Linked DNA regions of Homo sapiens. The protein of the gene in region 1 purifies or fractionates together with the protein of each later gene. This does not show direct contact. Each region holds a gene or a part of one and is shown in the gene's direction. Other genes may lie near its edges. The genes, in order: CHORDC1, KDM4B, NSRP1, CEP120, PLBD2, TOMM34 and IARS2.

Region 1 (3,060 bases):
TTTGTATGTTGTGTGTTTATACATGAGAAAACAGAAACAAGGTTACAGTTCTTAAGTGGTCATTGTGATATAAACTGCCTGTTTTTCTTCATATTCTGTATTTAAAAGTGATGCTATTTGGGCTAAATGTTTTGTTTGAAGGACTGTCCTACACATTGCAGGGCATTTAGAATTTTGGGCCCTGGGGCACTAAGACAACATTATCCCAAGACGACCCATACTTTTCCGCATCCTGCAGTTGAGAGCCTCTCTTCTGTATTATGCTCTAGTTTATAGAAATGCAGCACTGTGTAAAAATCTTCCACTCTGTTTCCACATTCTTCCTGATATACTGTACATTCATTTTTAGTAACTTAGACACTTGTAAAATGCTAGAGTTTGTACACTTACTGGCTTATTAAAAATCAGATTTATCCCTAAAATACTTGTGGATTTAATTGGTTGTGAGATTTTATTTCTGAAGTTTTTCTGTGATAATTTAAAGGATGAAATACTGGAGCTGTTGTAGAAGAAAAACTTCTGATTTTAATACATTCTTAGCCCAAGAGGGCTGTACAAAAGGGAAACACATGTGGACTAAAAAAGATGCTGTAAGTAACTCTTCCAAAAATAGCACACTGGGTTTATATTCATCTGAGTCATTTTTTAAAGATTTGAAATTATTCTGTCTTTAGATTTTAAAAAAAAGTTTTCTTTTTTGCACCATAGAGCTTTGATGTGACTACGAAATAAAATGAATCTGAGTCAAGCTGCCAGTGTACTGCCTTTTGAGCAAAATAGCCATTGTCTGTTTTGATGCAAGCATGTGAGGTTTTGTGAAATACTTAAGCCTGACAAAATTGAAGAATTTTTGTCTTCTTTAATTAATAAAATTAGCTCCATGGCCTCTTCCTACTTTTTGTTTTTTAAAAATTACTTTTCTATGAATTTGATGACGTTAAACGTTTAGACCTCTGTTATTCTTTTGGCCACTTAAAACTTCAATCATTTACAGATGCACAAACACTCCATCTAGTGGCCAGAGAGGAGGATTGCAGTCTTGTTTCAGTGGAATTGTTTTGAATGCCTCTGCTTGCTAATGGGATATTTATCAAAAGGGGGGAAAAAAGCATCATTTCCTACTTCCCTGGACAGCTTTTTAAAAAGACTTGGGGGCTATGCAAATAATTTCCCAAAACCCCATTAAATTGTGAGAGGATGAGCAACTTATTGCTCAATAAGTTTTTGTCTGTTAGCTATTGTTAATGTATTTTATAATGTATTAAATTTTCAAATTAATTTAGAGATTTCAATATTTTAGTCTTCTGTAGTTGCTGCCCCTCCCCCACTTTTTTTTTTCTTGAGACAGAGTCTCGCTCTGTCGCCCAGACGTGCAGTGCAGGCTCACTGCAACCTCCGCCTCCCGGGTTCAAGCAGTTATCCTGCCTCAGCCTCCCTAGTAGCTGGGACTACAGGTGCGTACCACCACGCCCAGCTAATTTTTTTGTATATTTAATAGAGACAGGTTTTCACCATCTTGGCTAGGCTGGTCTTGGACTCCTGACCTCGTGATCCACCCGCCTCGACCTCCAAAAGTGCTGGGATTATAGGCGTGAGCCACCGCGCCTGGCCCTAGTTGCTTTTTAATAACACATGGTTGGATATTATAAAAATACCCTGAAGTTATAAAAATTCATCTACCACAAAACTATCAGAAATGTTTTTAAATAAAAAGAGTGTATTTTTTATAGTCCAAAAGTTTGAAAATTTTAGTTTGAAAAAATAAAATGTTGTTTTCCATTATGTTAAGTTTGGGAGTATAATCCTAGATAAAATGATGTAATTTCTCTTGTTTTTTAATGTATGCAGTTATCAAGTATTAAGTATCTAAGCTAGTAGCTAAGGGGAAAAATGTGAGTGATATATATAATTTAAATTTAGTTAATGTAATTTTATCAAAACGAAAATAGTACCTTTTACAACAGTAGTGTCTCAGTTTCCTGAATTATGTAACTAAATTGTTCTCATTTATATAACAAATCATCATTTGCCTCTATAAAAAAAAATACTGGTAGGGCAGTATAGTATACTACTGGTATGTAAGGATTATTTTCATAATCAGAAAATCCAAAAATCATTTGTTCTTTATTAAAATGGGAAGAAAGTAATAACTGGTCAGATTTTTTTCTTAGATTCTGATTTGTAGAAAATAAATAAGGTTTCTAGTGCATGAGGTTAAGGTGTTGTCTGATTTATCCCAGTAAACAAATGTCTTTCATTTCAGTCTTCAAAGAATGTTTTGATGACAGTACTTAGTAGGTTACAGAATGTTAAATTGGATTAAATTTAGTAGGAGTTCTTAAATTGTCTTTTTAGCTGTGTATCAATATTATGGCCCTGAAAGAAAAAAACAAAGGGAAGGAGTAAGTGTGTTCTGAAATCATAAAATTTATGAAGAATCTTTGTACCATGATATATTTTCTTGTTTAAGCCTCTTGGGAAATATAGAAGTTTTTTGCCCTTAAACATTAAGTGCTTAGTTGTTGTGCATGGTAGTTTTTTCTCAGATGGGTCAAATTCCTCTTTTTAAGAAATTAATTATGTGGCACTTTTTTAACTTACAGAGTTTCTCTTACATTACAGGGGAAAAAAGTTGTTCCATGTAGACATGACTGGCATCAGACTGGAGGTGAAGTTACCATTTCAGTATATGCTAAAAACTCACTTCCAGAACTTAGCCGAGTAGAAGCAAATAGCACATTGGTAAGTACATCTTATAATTTTGGGTAAAAGTTCTTTTCTATACATCATTCTTTATGTTACTGTATTTTAAAGTATTGTTTATATCTCAGCTGATTTGGGGGTAAGATTTTATAATGACTCCCATTAAAAAAAATTAAATTACTTCTATGAAACTATTTTAAATGAAAATTTCTGTATAGTAGACTTACTGCTGAACCATTCTGGAGATACTGTAGTAGATTTATCAAGTAATATAGTACTTAGTTCTCAATATGAAACTTGAAGCCAGTTATTCTTTTTTGTCAGTGGCTTTTCTCATATGAAACAATACAGTATTGG
Region 2 (3,493 bases), on another chromosome or scaffold:
GCCAGGACCTCTAGAACACCATGGAAGTTTACTCCAGAGATCAGGCTGAGCATGTGCCAGTCTCTCTCCCTCCCTCAAGAAACCTATGGAGATGATAGAAAACACACAAATAGATAAATAGCCATTTATAACGTACACAGAGCACAACTGTGGTGGAAAATGACAAGGGAGACTCAGGGTGGGTCTTGACAACATCCCACAGAAGAGGCGCTGACGCAGCCCCCACCCTGGTGGCGAAGGAAGTGCTCCCAGGATCATTGTCATGTCACCAGAGCCCAGGCAGGGCCAGCGTCAGGGGAGCTCACCTCAAGGAAGCCGAGCTAATGAGACAGTCAGAAATGAGATGATGCCAGCCAGGCGCGGGGGCTCATGCTGTGATCGCAGCACTGTGGGAGGCTGAGGTGGGCAGAGCGCTTGAGCACAGGGGTTCGAGACCAGCCTGGGCAACGCAGCAAAACCCTGTCTCTACAAAAAAACAAAATTAGCTGGGCATGGTGGCACGCACCTTTAGTCCCAGCTACTTGGGAAGCTGAGGTGGGAGGATCACTTGAGCCTGGGAGGTTGAGGATTCAGTGATCCAAGATCGCGCCACTGCACTCCAACCCGGGTGATGAAACAAAGCCCTGTCTCAAAAAAAAAAAAAAAAAAAAGTCACATTTCCAGAGTGCTCGGGGCGGGGGGGCAGAGGCTGTGGAATCAGGAATGGGTGGTATCGGAAGCCAGCAAGCCACCGTGGAGTGCGCGCCTGCCTGCGAGGTGGCGGCAGGACCTCGATCACACAATCATGCAAACGCCCGCTGTGTGGTGGCCAAGGAGATGGGGCTGGAGCTGCCTGCCCCGAGGCCAAGGGCCTGGTCAGCGGGGCGGGTGGCTGGGGTGGGCCCAGGTGACAGCGAGGCCGAGTGGCTGAGACCCCCACATGCCAAGGCCCCAAGAGCCTCCCCGCCTGTCCGGAACACTTGGAACATGTTTCCCTCGCACGTGACCCCTCGAGATGCTTCTGAGACGTGCCGGGCAAGACGTCACCACAGGGAGCCCGGGCCGAGGCGCACGCCTCTGATTTCCTGTAGCTGCAAGTATATCCAGTTTTCTCAAAATGTTAAAAAGCAAACGCCGCCTTCAGAACTCGCCCTGTGGAGACTCATAGTGAAAGCACGTTCCAGGGAGGCCACTGGGAGGAAATCAGCCTGAGTCTCCAGTCAGCCCCCAGTTCCCAAATGACCCAGGCACAGAAGTTTCCCTGGAGCCCACTTGGACCCGGCAGTGTGAGCGCCATCCTCCTAGGCGGTTCTGTGCTCCTGAGAATCTGGGGCGGATCTCTGCAGTCTTCCTGACCCAGAAACCTGAGCCAGTTTCCACTGAGTTTCTAGAACGCGCCTTCCCCTCCTGGCAAGGCTGCTTCTGTGCCTGACTGAATCACTGTGTGCCACGCCTGCCAGAAGCCGAGAGGCCGAGTCGGGGCCGGGGAGCTGGGGAAAGGCAGCAGGTGGGCCCTGGGACTCCTGCAGTGGGAGCTCTAAAACCCGCTGCTGCCCGTGGCAAAGCGGAGCCTCCAAAACCCGCTGCTGCCCTTGGCAAAGCGGAGCCTCCAAAACCCGCTGCTGCCCGTGGCAAAGCGGAGCCTGGCCACGCCGGGGGTGGAAATCGCTTTCCGGGGTGCTGGGGCTCCGACACTAGGACTCCTTCACCCAGACTCTCCTCACCGGACAGACGCTGGGAAGGGGCCTTCTCCCGGTGGCTTTCCTCTACAAATGAGATGGGTAGGACGGGGCAGAGGGTGGCACCCATGTCCTTGGTTCCCAGCAGGCTCCTCCACACATCCCCGAGAGATGTGTGCTGTCGTCCCAGGACACGGCCCAGAGGCAACCGGCCATCTGAGAGTCCACACTGGGCACTCCCAGCCCTGCTTCTCCCGCCGCCTGCGCCGGCCAAGAGGCATGTGGAACCCACAGCAGACACTTGCTCCAGGGCCTACGTCTGTCTCCATCCCCACCCATCCCTGGAGGAGTCACAGGGACCGGCAGGCTTGGCTGCCCCAAGGCAGGGTCTGTGCTCCCTTGGAGAGGGAGGTGCTGCGATCCCGGGCCCCCCCGCTGCACACTACGTGGGGCGTCTAGCCCCAGACACACTTCCGCGATGGTCTTACTGTGTGACTTTTATACACTTCCGTCATGGTCTTAGTGTGTGACTTTTGTACGCTTCTGTGACAGTCTTATGTGTGCATTTTGTTCATTTTGAGACGGGGTCTTGATCTGTCACCCAGCCTGGAGTGCAGTGACATAATTAGAGCTCACTACAGCCTCCACCTCAGCCTCCTGGGTAGCTGGGACCACAGGCACATGCCACCATGCCTGGCTTGTTTTGAGTTTTTAAATGTGAAAAGCGAGCCCTCTGATATGGGAACCTTCTCCCCCTGGAGCAGAACGGCAGTCAGGCCCAGGGAGTGACCCCAGCACCTTTCCTGGCTTGGGAACACGGCGCCCATCGCAGTTATGAGGTGGGCCTGGAGACACGCCCCTCCCTGGCACGCCCTTCATGGGACAGTGTTGTGTTGCCAGAGGGCCCCTGAGAGAGTCTCCGCGAGCCTGAGCTGGCACCAAGCTTAACGAGGAGGAAGCGGGGTGCTCCCAGTGCCCCTCACCAGTCAGGCATCTGCCACCTGGAACAAGGCACCAGCTGGGGAGGCTGGAAGGGGGTGATTTTTCTCTGAGTTGAAGGGAAGAGGTGACTGAGCTGTTTTCAGAGGGCCACACATAAGCCAGGGACCCTGTCCTTCACCTTCTGGTTGGGGGCTCCTGAGCTCAGGCCCCTGAGTCCGCCTGTCCGGCCTCCCCTGCCTCCCAGGCCCTGTTAGGGCACTGCGCCTCCTGCCTGGCTCTGTGTCCACCAGTGACTCTGTCACCTTGTCCTGGGGCTGTGTCTTCATGGAGACAGATGTCTTTTGAGCTGGGAGGAGGTGAGGGGTGAGTGTTCTGTCTCCATGTGGAAGCTGCGGGGCCCTGCCTCTGCCCCAGGCTGTCCCGTCCTCCGTCATCCTTGCCCCGTGGTACGGGACCCTCAGCCTGATCCTTGTTTGCTGCAGGCGGTGTCAGAGGTGGACATGAGCTTCAGCTTGGCTGCATGTGGCCTCTAGCGGGCCCCATGCACCCAAGGGGGCTGGCCTCCCAGCTCTTGAGGCCGTGGCCTGCCTGGAGCACCTGCCATCCTGGCAGTGCCAGGCCCCTGAGAGCCACATCCCCCTGCAGGTGGAGTTTGAGGACGGGTCCCAGCTGACGGTGAAGCGTGGGGACATCTTCACCCTGGAGGAGGAGCTGCCCAAGAGGGTCCGCTCTCGGCTGGTGAGTGCGCGAGGCTGGCCTGGTGGCTCCGGGTGACTCAGGGAGCCCGTCTGGGACGAGGCAGGGCACAGACTGCGTCTTCCAATGGCGTGGACCACCCCCTCCTCTTGCACCTCTGCTGGAAGGGGGTCCCGGCCGCCCCAGCACAGCTGGTC
Region 3 (3,500 bases), on another chromosome or scaffold:
AAAGGCACAAGGAAACAGTAGCAGAATCTCTCCCCTGTGGTTAGCTGTTTGCTCTGTCACTGAACTTTAGGGTTATGAGTTTGTGATCATAATTTATATATAGGAATTCAAGACACAAGGAATATGGTATTATATAGCAGTATAAAACAGAAAGGAAAGTTTAACTAAAAACACAGTTGAACTCTTCAGTAACTATTATTTCTACTAGACTTTTCTCTTAGTTCTCATTTTGTGGCTTTTGCCTTAGAACATGATCTGAAATGTAAAAACATTTATTACAAAGTATAACGCCATGGCATTTGTCAGAAACAATATAAATATAATTTTAAACCCTAGTTACATTTTTTTGGGATGAGAAAATAATAGAGTAACACCACTCAAGGAGGATCAATGAGGCAATTAGAAAAAGAATAACATTAATTGAAGAAAGAATAAAAATTGGATGAATTAAGAATATCTTAATGCTTTACCTTAGTGCTTTCTACTCATGATTATTTCTCAAGATCTAAGTAGAATATGTATTTATAAAATACTTTTTTTTTTGAGACTGGGTCTCTGTCACCCAGGCTGGAGTGCAGTGGCTCAACCATGGCTCACTGCAGCCCTGACCTCCCAGGCTCCAGTGATCCTCCCACCTCAGCCTCTTGAGTAGCTGGGACTACGGGAACATACCACCACGTCTGGTTACTTTTTGTATTTTTTGTAGAGACGGGGTCTCACTATGTTGCCGGGGCTGGTCTCGAACTCCTGGGCTCAAGCAATCTTCCTGCCTCAGCCTCCCAAAGTGTTGGCATTACAGGTGTGAGCCACCATGACCAGCCCTGTAAATACTTTAATTGACAAATGCTCATCAGCTTTTTGGACAGAGTCTCGCTGTGTCGCCCAGGCTGGAGTGCAGTCGTATGATCTTGGCTCACTGCAACCTCTGCCTCCCAAGTTCAAGTGATTCTTATGCCTCAGGCTCCCAAGTAGCTGGGATTACAGGCATGCACCACCACACCTGGATAATTTTTATATTTTTATAGAGACGGAGTTTTACCATGTTGGCCAGGTTGGTCTCGAACTCCTGAGCTCAGGTGATCCACCCACCTCAGCCTCCCAAAGTTGTAGGATTACAGGCGTGAGCCACTGCGCCCATCCTCTTCAGCTTTTAAGTAGAAGAAAACCAAGTCTATAACATTCTGTCTAAGCATGTACTATGTGTTTAGAGTGCCAGTCGGCAAACTTTCTGTAAAGGACCAGATAGTATTTTAGTATTCATATTTTAAGACTTTAAATTTATAAATTCATATTTTGAATGCCAGATCATATTCATACTTTAGGGCTTTTTGTGTATATGATCTCTGTCGCAGTTACTGAGCTCTGCCTTTGTAGTACAAAAGCAGTTGTGGACAATACATAAATGAACAGGGCTTTGTTTCAATAAAAATTTATTTATGAAAACAGGCAACAGGCCAGATTTGGCCTGCAGTTTGCCAACTCCTGATCCAGCGAGTAGTTTACACACTGTATGTTATATACTGTATGTCTGTAAAATGAAACTGCACTGTGCCTTATTGAATATATTCTAATTTTTGCTTTCCCTCTGTTAGCATGTTTGGATGTAACCAAGCAGAAAGATCTCAGTGGATTTTATAGGCACCTATTAAATCAAGCAGTTGGTGAAGAGGAAGTACCTAAATGCAGCTTTCGTGAAGCCAGGTGAGGAGACGTGTATGAAATATTTTGAAGAAAAATACTGTTAATAATCTGTGGTTGTGGGGTCATTTTAACCCTCTGAAAGATGGAAGATTACAACATTGCATATTGTGTTGTCAGCCAGCCTTACCTAACTGAATGAATGGCTAGAAATTTGCAGTTTCTTGATTTTAAAACCTACAGATTTAGTTTAAGATCATTTTTATTCTGCATTTCACAGAAATTGTTACATTAAAACAGTGATTGAGTTTAATATTATTGTAAAACCAAAGACAGACTTTTAATGTATAAAGTTTCTGAATTTTTAAGTGATTTATGGGTCTTAACAAGGGAGAGCAAAATCTTCAAGGGAAAGCAAAATCAAATTGTAGTTTTTTCTTTTTTCTTTTTTTTTTTTTTTTTTGAGGCAGAGTCTCACTCTGTCGCCTAGGGTGGATGGAGTACAGTGGTTCAATCATAGCTCACTGCAGCCTTTGCCTCATGGGCTCAAATGATCCTCCCAAGTAGCTGGGACTACAGGTGCAAGCCATCATGCCCAGCGAATTTTCTTTTTGTGTTTTTTGTTGTTGTTGTTGTGTGTGTGGTTTTTTTTTTTTGTTTTTTTTTTTTTTAGATGGAATGGAGTCTTGCTCTGTCACCCAGGCTGGAGTGCAATGGCGCGATCTCTGCTTACTGCAACCTCTGCCTCTCAAGTTCAAGGGATTCTCGTGCCTCAGCTTCCTGAGTAGCTGGGACTATAGGTGCATGCACTACGCCCGGCTAATCTTTGTATTTTTAGTAGAGATGGAGTTTCACCATGTTGGCCAGACTAGTCTCGAATTCCTGACCTCAGGTGATCCACCCGCCTCGGCCTCCCAAAGTACTGGGATTATATGCATGAGCCACCACGCCCAGCCTCTTTTTGTATTTTTGTTGTGGAGATGGGGCTTTATGTTGCCCAGGCTGGTCTTGAACTCCTGGGTTTGAGGGATCCCCCCTCTATCTCAGCCTCCCAAAGTGCTGGGATTACAGGTATGAGCCACTGCACCTGGCTGCTTTTTTTTTTTTTTTTTTTTTTTTAAATAAGAATGTGGGTATTCCTCATGATCCTTAAAATGATTGGTGCCTGGTACCTTAAAATGATTTTGCTGTCAGAATTAAGGAGAAAGTTGGAAAGAATTAGGTGTCTACAATATAAGTCTTATATACATGTTCAGATAGTGTATAAAAAGGAAAGTGGTTTGTTTTCATAAATAGAACCCAGCCTTCCTAAAATGTAAGACTTACATATCGGGGCTAGAACTGCACTGTTAGTATGTAGGCACTAGTCACGTGTAGCTACTTAAATTAATTTAAAGTAAATAAAGTAGGTTGGGCGCAGTGACTCACGCCTGTTATCCCAGCACTTTGGGAGGCTGAGGCAGGTGGATCATGAGATCAGGAGATGGAGACCATCCTGGCCAACATGGTGAAACCCTGTCTCTACTAAAAATACAAAAATTAGCTCGGCATTGTGGCACATGCCTGTAATCCCACCTCCTGGGGAGGTTGAGGCAGGAGAATTGCTTAAACTCGGGAGGCGGAGATTGCAGTGAGCTGAGATAGCGCCACTGCACTCCAACCTGGCGACAGAGCCAGACTCCATCTCAAAAAATAAAATGGCTGGGCACGGTGGCTCATGCCTATAATCCCAGCACTTTGGGAGGCCAAGGCGGGCGGATTGCGAGGTCAGGAGATTGAGACCATCCTGGCCAGCACGGTGAAATCCCGTCTCTACTAAAAATACAAAAAATTAGCCAGGCGTGGTGGCGGGCGCCTGTTGT
Region 4 (3,500 bases), on another chromosome or scaffold:
TTTAAATTTTAATTTATTTTATATTTAATTCCTGTTTGTTTTTTAGCTACAAAAGAGCTATAAGCATGTATTTGTATTTGTAATTTTATGTATGTTACAGTATAAGAGAAATAAAATAGGTCCTGAAAATTCATGATAATTTTTTACTTTCAGAAAGTTTTACACATTACAGAAGCTTAAGAAACATTGACCTACATGATGGCTTCTTAGATGAAAGAATGTAAAATATGTTGACATGTTTTGTATAATATTTAGTTGGTGTAGAGGTTAGTAGATATAATTAATAGTTCTTACCTGTTTATTTTTTTTATTTTTATTTTTATTTTTATTTTTGAGATGGAGTCTTGATCTGTCACCCAGGCTGGAGTGTAGTGGCGCGATCTCGGCTCACTGCAACCTCCGCCTCCCAGGTTCACATAATTCCCCTGCCTCAGCCTCCTGAGTATCTGGGATTACAGGCGCGTGGCACCACACCCAGCTATTTTTTTTTGTTTTTTTTAATTTTAGTAGAGATGAGGTTTCACCATGTTGGTCAGGATGGTCTCGATTTCCTGACCTCGTGATCTGCCCTCCTCGAACTCCCAAAGTGCTGGGATTACAGGCGTGAGCCATTGCGCCTGGCCTAGTTCTTGCCTGTTGAAGAGTTTTTTAGACAATGTAAAATAGTTACAGTTTTATCCAACAAAATTATAAGTATCTTGATAATAGGAAATATTTTCAAGGCCAATAGAAAGTTTATTAAGCAAAAACCATTTTATTTATCACATGTTTTGTTATAGGCTACAGCGTACTCCTATCAAACTCCAATGTTTTGCCTTGGATCCTGTAACTTCAGCCAAGGAAACCATAGGTTACATCGTTCTGGATTTAAGAACCGCTCAAGAAACAAAGCAGGTATTGCCCTTTTGATGTTTTGCTAATGATTATGTTAGACAGTCGATTATTTTCAGTAGATAACAGATTGATGAAAAGGACATGAAATACTAGACCTGATCAGTCATAGACTTGAGCCAATATGGCAGTTCTTTTTTTTTTTGAGACGGAGTCTCTGTTATCCAGGCTGGAGTGCAATAGCACAATCTTGGCTCACTGCAACCTCCGCTTCCCAAGTTCAAGCAATTCTCCCTGCCTTAGCCTCCTGAGTAGCTGGGATTACAGGCACTCACCACCACGCCTGGCTAACTTTTGTATTTTTAGTGATGGGGTTTTGCTATGTTGGCCAGGCTGGTTTCAAACTCCTCACCTCAAGTGATCTGCCTGCCTTGGCTTCCCAAAGTGCTGGGATTACAGGTGTGAGCCACTGCACCCAGCCAATATGGCAGTTCTTATGTTTTAGTTTATGAATTAGATTTAGAAAATCTCAACATTTTAGTGATTTCCTTGACCAAGAACTGTCTTGCTCAAAAAGACATCTCTGAACTGACTTGTATCCAAGTTGCTATTACCGGAAGCTTAACATGCCTAGCCCCTGAGCTTTCCTTTTAAAGGTGGTTCATCCTCTTCTAATGTTTCCTGCTTCAGTGAATTGTCAGCATTCCCCTTTCAGTTATACAAGTTAGAAATACAGAAGTCTTCCTTGACATTTTTCCTTTTCCTTCCTCCATAACTACCTGTTCCCAGTTGGGTTTTTTCCCTCCTGATCTGTCTGCTATTCTGCTTTTCACTGCTGCCACCCCAAACTCAGCTGCTATTGTTTCTTACCTTGGCTATCATAATAGCCTCCCTGCTTCCTGCTCCTTGCATTCCTTGCATAGCAGTCAGAGCAAGTGAACTTATTGAAACACAGTTGATGTTATCTAACCAGTACCTCTCTGCCCCCCTACTCCCAAGAGAAAGAACTCAGAATCATCCTGATTCCTGTGATGGTGACTTTTATTATTTAACATGGTGCTGCTTAGGGCTTTTTTTTTTTTTTTTTTTTTTTTTTTTTTTGAGATGGAGTCTTGCTCTGTTGCCCAGGCTGGAGTGTAGTGGCACGATCTCGGCTCACTGCAAGCTCTGACTCCCGGGTTCATGCCATTCTTCCGCCTCAGCCTCCCCAGTAGCTGGGACTACAGGCACCCGCCACCATGCCCAGCTAATTTTTTTTTTTTGAATTTTTAGTAGAGACGGGGTTTCACCGTGTTAGCCAGGATGGTCTCGATCTCCTGACCTCATGAACCACCGGCCTTGGCCTCCCAGAGTGTTGGGATTACAGGCGTGAGCCACCGCGCCCGGCCGCTGCTTAGCGCTTTAAGTATCTTCTGACCTTTTTGTATGTGACCGACTTTAGAAATCTCCCTTGCAATTTTTCTGATTGTCTTGGGTCATAATTTTCTTAAGGGGGGAAAAAAGTTAAACAATTAAAATAATATCTTCTCTTTTATTTAAAACGCCATTCTTGATTTGAATCTTAAATTGGGATTCTGTGAAGAAAAACTTATCTTTTACTAATATTTTTGCTGCTGATAGCAAGGATATTTGCATATGATCAGTCAGCCTAGCCCAAGGTTGGAATAATTTAAAAGAAACTGAAATTTAAAAATGCTTTAAAAGAGGATTTGTTTTCCCCCCATCCTTGGTACTCACTGCCTCTCTGCCACTAGATCTTATTCTGAAAAGGTTTTTCCTTCTTTAGTTTTAGACCCTGGGCTTTGATTGGGCTCTTGATGTTTCTCTTAACCACCTTCTCTCATGTAGCGTGCAAGTGTCTAGAAGACACTTCTGCAGTCAGTTTAGTTGCAGAGAAGGTAAATCCTCTTAGGGGGGTATCTGAGGGATGAGGTCATGCCTCTAAATACTCTTGGCATTCTTTGTCCCCTTGTCCTTGAGAACAGTTTGTCAACATATTTGTAATCAAAGGGAGAAATGGCTCAGTTATTTAAACTAAATGCTGTATTGCTTATTCTCTCCTGTTTGTCAGCATAAATATTTGTAATTGGATAGTACAATATTTGAAGTTCAAAATAAATTGATTCTCTGTAAATAAATATAAACAGAAAAAAATCCAGATTTATTTTTCTGAGTTATATAACAGAAAAAGTCATCAATTCTCTGAGTAGCTGGAAATCTTTCTTTCAGGCTTATATTCAAAATTATAACATATTTGTTATAAGAAATACATCAACAAACTGTATTATGCATTTTTATCTTTAAAAAATTAGGTTGTTGATTTTTATTTAAAGCTTTGGCCTACTTAATTCTATTTTACTTATCAAACATGACTTGAATATAAAATAGCAGTATAGGCACCATTTATTATGTCTTTATATAACAAAGACAATATAAGCACCATCTACTATATCTTTATATAACAAATGATCAGAGTAAAAAATGCTGTTTCCAAGTATTGAAATGGTATTCCCACTGATCAGTGGTTCCTGCCCTAATAATATATGTAGGCATGATATTTTTCAGGCTATCTTGAGTACTAGAATTTCTGAGGTTGGTCTAGTGGGGATATTCAAATAATTTAGGATGCTTCATTCTGTAAGAAGGCTTTTGTTCGAGTATCAGTCAAG
Region 5 (3,500 bases), on another chromosome or scaffold:
TGGCTGTCATCTGCATTTGATAAGAACTATACCTCCTTGCCCCCAACACTCCCCCACAAACCTGAGTTGAGTTAGAGGCGCAGAGCATTCACTCAAGAATGTTAGTCTCAGCTCTGCTGCTCACCTGCTGTGTGACCTTGGGCAAATCACTTCATCTAACTGTATTATGTGGGAGCCTCGGTTCCCCACATCTGTAAAATGGGAAGAATAAAACCCATGTCATACGGTTGTTGGAAGAATTTTTTTTTTTTTTTTGACAGAGTCTCATTCTGTCACCCCGGCTGGAGTATAGTGGCACAATCTTAGCTTACTGTAACCTCCCGGGTTCAAGCGATTCATGCCTCAGTCACCAGAGTAGCTGGGACTACAGGCACGCACCACTACACCCAGCTAATTTTTGTAGTTTTAGTAGAGACGAGGTTTCACCATGTTAGCCAGGCTGGTCTCAAACTCCTGACCTCAAGTGATCGCCCTCCTCAGCTTCCCAAAGTGCTGGGATTACAGGCGTGAGCCACCGAGCCCTGGCCATTTTTGGAAGAATTTAGAGTTACATAAAAATGTAAGTACTTACCACAGTTTCTGGGGCTACTGTAATTCCCTGTATCAAGGCCCCACTAAAGATCCCCACAGCCCCACCCTGCTGGCCCCAAAGTACTTTGCTTTGGAACATTCAGAACTCAGGCTTCTTCCTTTTACTTTCTCTCTTCTCTTCACCTGGCAAACTCCTATGTAAACTTCAAAACCCAGAACAGCTGTCACCTCTTCTGTGATGCCTTCACAGATTGTAGTCAGATAATTGTAGCAGCAGCAGTATACCTCCTCAGGACAACCCCTTGACACTTTATTCGTTTTTCCATCATAATGGTTACCCCGTTATGTCCTTATCTGTTTTCATGCCTTTCCCCTCTGCTGCCACTAGCATTTTGAAGGCCAGATGAACATCATTCATCCTTAGATACCCTCAATGTCTGGCAGCCAGTAGGCACTCAAAAAGGCTTGCTTACTGAAGGTATCAGATGTGGGCATTTTTGAGTCTTTCCCTCTCCAGAGTCTTCTCCAGGGCTGAGCTATTCCTGTCCTGGAAGTGTTCGATGGCTTTTTAGCCAACTTCCCACGAGACAGCCCTGGCCAAGCCTGCCTCTCCCTGTCTTGTACCCTCTTCAAGGTCTCTTTAGCGTCTTCCTGTTGCCCTCATTTTCTTAATAGAAATTGCCTTTAAAAATGCTTCCCCCCGCTAGTTATAGAAATGACATGAGTGAATATTTTTGTGTCCTTGGAGCAAAAATGATATCTAGCACCGTGAAGGAAAAGATTGATCTGGTTACACAAAAATGAAAACGTCTATATGGCAAGAACAAATGCAAAAACCAATTAAAACACAAACATATTTTCTCTTATTATTATTTTAGAGAGAGGGTCATGCTCTGTCATCCAGGCTGGAGTGCAGTGGAATGATCATAACTTACTGCAGCCTCAAACTCTTGGGCTCAAGTGATCTTCCTGCCTCAACCTCTTGAGTAGCTGGGACTACAGGCACACCCCACTGCACCTGTAACTTTTAAATTATTTCGTGTAGACAGAGTCTTGCTTTCCCAGGCTGGTCTTGAACTCCTGGCCTCAAGTGATGCTCCTGCCTTAGCCTCCTAAGGTGCTAGGATTATAGGCATCAGCCACCTGGCCTCTCCCCACTCCCCTCCTTCCCTCCTCCTCCTCTCCCTCCCTCCCCCTTCCCTCCCCTTCTTTTTTCTTTTTCTAGACAGAGTCATGCTCTGTCACCCAGGCTGGAGTGCAGTGGTGCCATTTTGCTCACTGCAACCTCCGCCTCCCAGTTCAAGCGATTCTCCTGCCTCAGGCTCCTGAGTAGCTGGGACTACAAGAGTGTACCACTACACCCAGCTGATTATTCTATTTTTAGTAGACATGGGGGTTTCACCATGTTGGCCAGGCTGGTCTCAAATTTCTCGAATTCTTGGCCAGCCAAAGTGCTGGGATTACAGGCATGAGCCACTGTGCTTGGCCCCGTATTCTCAATGTTAGTGACAAGCAGAGGGCTAATGTGTATACAGGGAATTTCACCAACCAATAAGAAAAGATTTTTAAAAACCCAATAGAGAAAAATGGATAAAGGACATGAAACAGAGAAATATAAATGACCAATAAAAATAAGAAAATATATGTAACTCAACTAATTTAAAAATTGGAAGCATGTTGGAACTTCTGCAGCTATCACCTTGGTAAAGATGAAAAAGTTTGCTAGTAATCATTTTAGTGAGGGAGTGGGCAAACAGAAGTTTGCTCATTGTAGAGACTCAGTCTGTGACCTGCTATGGTTCCAGGACTGGCAGTGTTGGCATTACCTGGAGGCTACTTAGAAGTGCAGAGCCCGGGCATAGTGGCTCATGCCTGTAATCCCATCACTTTGGGAGGCCGAGGCAGGTGGATCACTTGACGTCAGGAGTTCAAGACCAGCCTGGCCAACATGGTGAAACCCCGTCTCTACAAAAAATACCAAAATTAGCTGGGTGTGGTGGCACATGCCTGTAGTTCTAGCTACTCAGGAGGCGTAGGTGGAAGGATAGTTTGAGCCTGGGAGGCCGGAGGCTGCAGTGTGCCAAGATCATGCCGCTGCACTTCAGCCTGGGTGACAGCAAGATGCTGTCTCAAAAAAAAAAAAAAAAAGAAAAAAGCCCTGGTGCAGTGGCCTTAAGCTACTGTAAAGTATCTTAACAAAGTGCCTGTAATCCCAGCACTTTGGGAGGCTGAGGTGGGCGGATCTCTTGAGGCCAGGAGTTCTAGACCAGACTGGCCAACATGGTAAAACCCTGTCTCTACTAAAAATACACAAATTAGCTGGGTGTGGTGGCTCACACCTGTAATCCCAGCTACCCCGGAGGCTGAGGCAGGAGAATCACTTGAACCTGGGAGGCAGAGGTTGCAGTGAGCTGAGATCATGCCAGTACCCCCCAGCCTGGGAAACAGCCAGACTCTGTCTCAGGAAAAAAAAAAAACAAGAATCTCAGACCCCATTGCAGAACTGATCAGAACCTGCCTTCTAACCAGGCCTTCAGGTAACCTGCATATATACATCAGAGGTTGAGAAGTGCTCCTTCAGAGGAGTGGGAGCCAGCCTGCCTGGAAGTGAATCCTGCCCCTGCCAACTCTGTGACCTTTCACATGTATCCGCTAGTATTGGGCAGCAGTGCTGTGTGATAAACCAGCCCCAATCCAGCAGCTTAAACCAACAACATTGATTCTCATGGATCCGTGGGGCTGCTGGGGCAGCTCTACTTCATGCTGCAGCTCTACAGACCTGGTGTGCTTGTGTGGCTCTCATATCCCTGGGACCAGTGGGCTGGCCGGGGCTTGTTCTTCCCATGGTGATGGCAGAGGCACAAAGGGGCAAGTGAGGCTTCCTGAAGGCTAATCTTATAACTAGCATGCTGTCACTTCCACCCATATCCCATTGGCCAAAGCAGGTCACGTGACACAACCAAGCCCAA
Region 6 (3,500 bases), on another chromosome or scaffold:
TAGAGTCTTAGTGTTTGAGGACTTCAGGATAGAAACTGACTTAAGTGCATGAGGGAGTCGGGGAAAGACTCAGAAGGGGTGGCAATGGAGGTGGAGCCTTGAGCTGGACCTTGAAGAAGGTCATCAGGTGGGAAGGAAGGAGAATCCTTGGCAGAGACAGTGGAGAGAGTTGGAGAATGAAAGTGCATGGGGGGAACAGTAGGAATAAGGATGACTGCAGAGTGGTGTGTTGCAGGGTGCCAGTGAAGCTGAAGCCCTACTTCAAGAGAAACCTGTGTGCATGTGCACAGGGAGATGTACCCACAAATGTTCGTAGAAGACTGTAATAGCAAAAAACAACTGGAGATAACCCAGATCTCCATAAATGGGAGAATGGACAATTCAGCTTTGGTATTGCAGCAATGAAAATGAAGGAGCTGCAGGTCTGTGCATCAACACAGATGAATCTCAGAAATATAACATTAAGGGGAAAAAGAAAAACCAAGTCATAAAAGAATACACAGACTTATTCTTCTGTATGAAGTTCAAAAACAAAGTAAACAGCAAATGATCTGTGGGTACTGTTGTATATAGTTATACTGTTTAAAAAGGTGGGGAAGAAGCACAGAATTGGGGATAATAGTTTCCTCCAGCAGTGGATTGAATTGAGGAAGGTCCCCCAGGACTTCAAAGGTCCTAGTTATGTTCTTTTTCTTAAACCAGGCAATGAATTCAGGGTGTAAACCTATAATCTTACCCTGGTCATAAATATTTAGTATTTTATAAAGATAGTTTTAAAAATTTTTGAAAAGCAGATGATATGGAGCTGAGGCTGGAATAATTAATTGGGGCCAAGCAGTGAAGGGCCTGAACACCAAGTTGAGCAGCTTGGATTTCACCATGTTCCCTCTGCTTCCTCTCCTTGAAGGCTGGAGCAGAGCTGCATGTGTTAGATGAGGGAGGATACTCACAGGCTCAGCCCAAACCAGAAATGAGGAATAGCAGGCTCTTCTCCCCTTTTCTCATAGCCCAGAAGCTATACCTTTTCTTTACCAGATATTTGTTTATTAGTATTTATTTACTTATTGTCCTGCTTTAAGTTTATAGTGTGTTCCGTACTTTCTTACATACTCTCAGATTTGACCCTGAAAATAGCCATCTGTGGAATTAGTATTGCCCTATTTTATTGGTGAGGAAATTGAGGTCCAAAAGTTAGGTAGGTCACACAAGATCTTCCAGCTACCAAGAGGCAGTGCCAAGGCTAGAACCTGGGTTGCTTTTTATCATTTATATATTTTTATGTGCATGCAAAAATGTTTTTATATCAGGATTCCCCAACTTCTTGATGAAAAACTGTTGAATTGCCCAGAAGCTATTAATTGGGGGAAGTCATTAATCAGGAAGGATGATTTACAGCAGGGGAGGAAATCTCTGGGAGAGAGGATTGTAGTCAGTTTGGAAGGGACGATGCTGAAGAGACCTCACTGATCTCAGTTGGGTGCTGCTCCATGGTTTTTTTCCTCTTCTGAATTTGTATCTAGTGCCTTCTGCTGGGGATGTGGAGAAAGCCAGAGTTCTGAAGGAAGAAGGCAATGAGCTTGTAAAGAAGGGAAACCATAAGAAAGCTATTGAGAAGTACAGTGAAAGCCTCTTGTGTAGTAACCTGGAATCTGCCACGTACAGCAACAGGTATCTCCTATACAGCTGCTGGCCTGGGGCATTTCAGGACATTTGTTCCATAGTCTTCTCTTGGACTGCAATGGGCCCTTCATCCCTAGCATTTAGTCAAGTATGTTATGGCTGAAAACATGCATCCACGTTGTGAGCTAGCCATGACCAGTGGCATTCATTCTCTCAAAAGGGTAGAAACTGAGGGATGCCAAATGGTAGCCTGGGCTTTGTTGGCCCCTGTCCCCAGAATTTTCATAAGCATGCAATGTAACTAAAAGCAGTGTGCCTGCTCTGCAAACACAACCCTAACACAAGTCTCTTAGCCTGTCCACCCCACCACGCTACGCTGCTCCCTACCCTTCTCCAAGACCCTCCTGTTAGAAATTCTGGCACCATTTCTGTCTGAGAGTACTGGCCCAGAAGCCAAAATGTGAAGTAACCATTGCCTGGCATGAGAGCAGGAAGGATGGGTACAGTCTAGCCTGAAAGGTTAGACTTGTGGGCCTGTAGAAAGTCCTGCACCAGGAGCTGCCGTCAGTGACCACTGACTGAGAACCTGGGAGCCAGGGTGCGGTCCCTTCACTGTGTAGGAGTGATTGTTCTCCAACAATGCTCGTATAGGTGGTCTTTCTGTTTTAGTGTTTAGAAAATTGAGGCTCAGAGAAGGAAGGGTTTTGCTTTAAACTCAGCCAGCCAGTAAATGTTGGCACAAGAATTGGAATCTGACTTCAACAAGATCTTCCTGTTACTTTTACTCTCAGAAGCTTGAAACATTCAGCAAGAGACCATATCAAAACCAAATGCTTAGTATAAAACATTATAAAATGTTAGAAATCTGTTTATCCTTCCCTACCAGCATACACATATCACTCTCTAGTTCAAAAATCTTGGATCTAATATAGACACATTGTTCCTTATTCCAAACTCTTGAGATAAAATGTGTTTTCCAGCCACGGTGGCTCAATGCCTGTAATCCCAACACTTTGGGAGGCTGAGGCTCCGGGAGGATCACTTGAGGTCAGGAGTTTGAGACCAGCCTGGCCAACACGGCAAAACCCCATCTCTACTAAAAATACAAAAAATCAGCTGGGCGCTGTGGCACATGCCTGTGATCTCAGCTACTCAGGAGGCTGAGGCAGGAGAATCACTTGAACCCAGGAGGCAGAGGTTACAGTGAGCCAAGATTGTGCCACTGCACTCCAGCCTGGGTGACAGAGCGAGACTCTGTCACAAAAAAAAAAGAAGTGTTTTCCATTTTAGTGAGGTAATATGGTCTGAATTATGTAACACCCCAGCAGTGTCTGGGGCAGCTTGCAGAAGTTAATTATTAGTATTTCTGCCAGTGAAACTTGAAAATTCCATGTTCACATGGGGTGGAATAGAGAAACTAAATAGCTTCATGTCAGTTCAGATCAGGTTTTGCTGCCCAATGAGTTGGAAAGAGAACTTGTAGTTTTAAAGCTTATATTTTGGAATTTTGCACCTGTGGTTTTATGTGGTTTTATTGCTGATTGGACCAGAGGGGCCACAATTTGCCAGGCTAATTTGAAAAAGAAGCCTGCAGCCTATTTGTTCCATATTTGTGTGGCATCTTCTAACTCCTCTATCTCTGGACCCTCTTTCACATTGCTTACCTTATGCTGCTGGACACCTCCATTAACTCATTTTTCTGGATCATTACCATATTTGGAGCTGTGTTTTGTCTTGTTTAGATACTGTTCTTCATGCAGGTGTCTGTGCCACACTGTTTTAATTGCTTTTGCTTTATAATATCTTATAGGGCTGGTCTTTTCTTCATTCTTCTTAATCAGAGCATTCCTAGTATTTTCCCATGTTTGTTCTTCTAGCTA
Region 7 (3,500 bases), on another chromosome or scaffold:
CCCGGCTAATTTTGAAAAAATATTTTACAGAGATGAATTCTTGTTGTGTAGCCCAGACTGGTCTGGAATTCCTGGGCTCAAGTGATCTGCCTGCCTTGGCCTGCCAAAGTGCTGGGATTAAAGGCGTAAGCCACTGTGCCTAGCCCAAAATAATTCTTTGTGAGCTATAATTTGGGACTTTTGAGGTAGTGACTGCTTTGAAATATAATTATGGAAGTCTAGGGAAGTTTAAAATTAGCTTTTTGTTGTTGTTGTTCTTCATTTTGTTTTGAGACGTGGTCTTGCTCTGTTGCCCAGGCTGGAGTGCAGTGGTGCCATCTTGGCTCACTGCAGCCTCTGGATCCTAGGCTCAAGTGATCTTCCTGCCTCAGCCTCTTGAGTAGCTGGGACTACAAGTGTGTGCCACCATGCTGGACTAATTTTTAATTTTTTTGGTAGAGATGAGGTCTTGCTACATTGCCCAGGCTGGTCTTGAACTCCTGGCCTCAAGTGATCCTCCTGCTTTGGTCTTCCAAAGTGCTGGGATTATGGGCATGAGCCACTGTGCCTGGACTAAAATTCTATTTTATTTTATTTTATTTTTAAAGAGATGAGGTCTCACTATGTTGCCCAGGCAGATCTTGAACTCCTGAGCTCAAGTGTTCCTCCTGCCTCTGCCTCCCAAAGTGGTAGGATTATAGACGTGAGCCACCATGCCTGGGCTAAAATTATCTTTGATCCTTAGGTATGATATATCTTTTAATTTCTTGCTAAAAAATCTATCACATGAATAAAGATACAAAAACTGCCTAGAAAGACTGCCTAGCTAAATAGGAAAGCCCTCTAAATTAATCAGTTCAGATACAAGCCAATGAGAAGTTTAAACAACCTTAACAAAAATAAAAAGATTTTTATGTCAGAGGCAGGAAAGGAGCTTAAGAATTTTGAAGACCATTTGGTCCTCTTTGGTGCAATAGGGTAATAAAAATAAAAACCAAGATAATAATTTACTTCACACCCTCTCTCACTGTGTTGCCCAGGCTTGTTTCAAACTCCTGGGCTCAAGCAATCTTCCTGCCACAGCCTCCCAAAGTGCTGCAATTACAGACATGAGCTACTGCACCCAGCCCCCTGCTCTTTTATAAATGCAGAGGATATTAAAGACTTCATTGTCAAGTTATACATTATCATAGAAGCTAAAAATCACAAGATTTTTGAAAGTGTTAAGGTTGAATTTAAAGATCTTTTGTCTAGATAGCATAATTGTTTCAAATTCTTACTATCAGATAATTATTGAGTTGCTATTTGAGTCACCATATTGTGGAGGAGTATATATATTATCCCTGTCAAAATAAGCTGGTGTCACGTAGCTACTACTTATTAAAGTAGTAGGAATGTTGAAGAGCTAAAAATGAAGTAATTTGTATGGGGTAGGTTTTCTTTCCGGAAAAAAATGAATTATTTCTTATCAATTACTTAGAGATCATTTTGGGAGGGTGGTGAGGGAGAATATTAAGTGGTAGATGCAGTAAGTATCAAAACACTTAAACTACATTAACTCTGTTTATTCTCACAGAAACCCTCTGAGGTGGGAACCATAATTATCTGCATTTTATAGATTATAGAAGGTCACAGAACAAGTTAAAGGGGAAGCTGGAATTTAAGCCTAGCCAGTATTGTTCTAGATTCTGCACATTTAACCTGATACTCTATTGCTAAGCTTAAGGAGATAGATTTGCCATATAAAATGATTCTTAATAGTGGTTTTCTTTCCCCACAGGTGTAGATTTGGAAAATGGTACTTGCAGTCATCCATTAATTCCTGATAAAGCCTCTCCTCTTTTACCTGCAAATCATGTGACCATGGCAAAAGGAACGGGATTGGTTCACACAGCCCCAGCTCATGGTATGGAAGACTACGGTGTAGCGTCTCAGCACAACCTGCCCATGGTACTGTTCCTCTTTTATCATTTTTAATTATTCATCTTAATAAAAGGAAATGATAAATTCTAACCAACATCTTCATTTTTTAAAAATGATGACTTTTGTCATCATAATTGTGAAATGCTCAGGTTTGTGTAGTACTCTAAAGTTTCATTAATTCGTACTAATTGAAAAAGATTTCCCAGAATTAATAGAAAATTAGCACTTTAGAATTGAAGAATATATATCATGGGGCACTTTTAAAATACTTTTTTTCTAGTATCAAGTCACATAGACAAATTACTTTTATTCCCTGAAAAAGCCTGTTTGTTTTAGCTAAACAGTCCTTTCTACATTTACTTTACATACTTCAGTTACTTAGCAAGTATTTCCGTTTAGTTAAAAGGTGAGTCAGAAAGGGAACAACTGTGTATATAGGCATAGATTTGGAAACAATAGAGACCACTCAAAGATGTTTTAATATATTTTGTTACTTTTGTTATTAAAGTTTATGGATATGCTTCAATAACACATTTTGGCTTTGGTGATTTAAATGTATAAAATTCACAAATTCCTATTTCCTTTTCTTTTCTTTTCTTTTTTTTTTTTTTTGAGAGGGAGTCTTGCTCTGTCGCCCAGGCTGGAGTGCAGTGGTGTGGTATGATCTCGGCTCACTGCAACCTCTACCTCCAGGGTTCAAGCGATTCTCCTGCCTCAGCCTCCCGAGTAGCTGGGACTACAGGTGCACACCACCATGCCTGGCTAATTTTTGTATTTTTAGTGGAAGTGGGTTTCACCATGTTGGCCAGGCTAGTCTCAAATTCCTGACCTCAAGTGATCTGCCCACCTCGACCTCCCAAAGTGCTGGGATTATAGGCCTGAGTGCCGCGCCCGGCCAAGTACCTAGAATTTCAATGTAGAAAAAGACCAGGCTATACTGAGATGTTTTTATATATATTGTTTTGCCAGATATTGTCATAAGAGAAAATGTCTTGATATTTTAATTGTTCAAAATGATACTTTATAGGATTGTCTAGTGGACGAAGATGGAGTTTTCACAGATGTTGCAGGTCCTGAACTTCAAAACAAGGCTGTCCTTGAAGAGGGAACTGATGTGGGTGAGCATCATATCTGTTGATATCATACATGTTTTCTGAAAAGTAGGTAGCAGTAACCTTTGCTACCTATTTTCCCTCCTTATACTTTAACAGAAACAAAAAAATAAATTATGTCTTGTTTTGCCATATGTTTTAAAATGGAGTTTGGGACTTTTTCATCTTTTGCTTTGAAGCTGCTTTATTTAAGCAAGTCAGGGCAGTCAACAGGGAGTGAAGTTATTTTAGGGCTATGGAGATAATAATCAGCAGTATTACTTTTGTGGAAGGATACAATCAAGATCAGGGCTGGATGTTGACTGTAAATTACACATTCCCTACTCACTTTTTAACCCTTGTAAATAACTGACCTATATGGCATGATTTATGTATTAGAATCTTGGGAATCCTCCAGCCTTGAATTGTCTTTCTGTCTTCCTTTACAGATTCAGAGACCAAGTGCTATGAAAACCTTTCTTTGCCCACACTAAGACTAAGGCTATT

What was found.
Region 2: the proteins of CHORDC1 (region 1) and KDM4B purify together in Homo sapiens (affinity purification with mass spectrometry; one large-scale study listed by BioGRID and IntAct). This does not show direct contact.
Region 3: the proteins of CHORDC1 (region 1) and NSRP1 purify together in Homo sapiens (affinity purification with mass spectrometry; one large-scale study listed by BioGRID and IntAct). This does not show direct contact.
Region 4: the proteins of CHORDC1 (region 1) and CEP120 purify together in Homo sapiens (affinity purification with mass spectrometry; one large-scale study listed by BioGRID and IntAct). This does not show direct contact.
Region 5: the proteins of CHORDC1 (region 1) and PLBD2 purify together in Homo sapiens (affinity purification with mass spectrometry; one large-scale study listed by BioGRID and IntAct). This does not show direct contact.
Region 6: the proteins of CHORDC1 (region 1) and TOMM34 purify together in Homo sapiens (affinity purification with mass spectrometry; one study listed by BioGRID and IntAct). This does not show direct contact.
Region 7: the proteins of CHORDC1 (region 1) and IARS2 purify together in Homo sapiens (affinity purification with mass spectrometry; one large-scale study listed by BioGRID and IntAct). This does not show direct contact.

What each region holds. Positions count from the first base shown.
Region 1 is NC_000011.10:90,202,990-90,206,049, reverse strand, and holds part of CHORDC1 (cysteine and histidine-rich domain-containing protein 1), read left to right. Parts: intron 1-484; coding exon 485-590; intron 591-2,622; coding exon 2,623-2,742; intron 2,743-3,060. UniProt on the Homo sapiens protein: Regulates centrosome duplication, probably by inhibiting the kinase activity of ROCK2. Proposed to act as co-chaperone for HSP90. May play a role in the regulation of NOD1 via a HSP90 chaperone complex. In vitro, has intrinsic chaperone activity.
Region 2 is NC_000019.10:5,147,113-5,150,605, forward strand, and holds part of KDM4B (lysine-specific demethylase 4B), read left to right. Parts: intron 1-3,245; coding exon 3,246-3,338; intron 3,339-3,493. UniProt on the Homo sapiens protein: Histone demethylase that specifically demethylates 'Lys-9' of histone H3, thereby playing a role in histone code. Does not demethylate histone H3 'Lys-4', H3 'Lys-27', H3 'Lys-36' nor H4 'Lys-20'.
Region 3 is NC_000017.11:30,179,316-30,182,815, forward strand, and holds part of NSRP1 (nuclear speckle splicing regulatory protein 1), read left to right. Parts: intron 1-1,592; coding exon 1,593-1,701; intron 1,702-3,500. UniProt on the Homo sapiens protein: RNA-binding protein that mediates pre-mRNA alternative splicing regulation.
Region 4 is NC_000005.10:123,413,404-123,416,903, reverse strand, and holds part of CEP120 (centrosomal protein of 120 kDa), read left to right. Parts: intron 1-779; coding exon 780-894; intron 895-3,500. UniProt on the Homo sapiens protein: Plays a role in the microtubule-dependent coupling of the nucleus and the centrosome.
Region 5 is NC_000012.12:113,365,087-113,368,586, forward strand, and holds part of PLBD2 (putative phospholipase B-like 2 isoform 1 precursor), read left to right. Parts: intron 1-3,500. UniProt on the Homo sapiens protein: Putative phospholipase.
Region 6 is NC_000020.11:44,946,898-44,950,397, reverse strand, and holds part of TOMM34 (mitochondrial import receptor subunit TOM34), read left to right. Parts: intron 1-1,520; coding exon 1,521-1,668; intron 1,669-3,500. UniProt on the Homo sapiens protein: Plays a role in the import of cytosolically synthesized preproteins into mitochondria. Binds the mature portion of precursor proteins. Interacts with cellular components, and possesses weak ATPase activity.
Region 7 is NC_000001.11:220,104,132-220,107,631, forward strand, and holds part of IARS2 (isoleucine--tRNA ligase, mitochondrial precursor), read left to right. Parts: intron 1-1,759; coding exon 1,760-1,929; intron 1,930-2,929; coding exon 2,930-3,020; intron 3,021-3,500.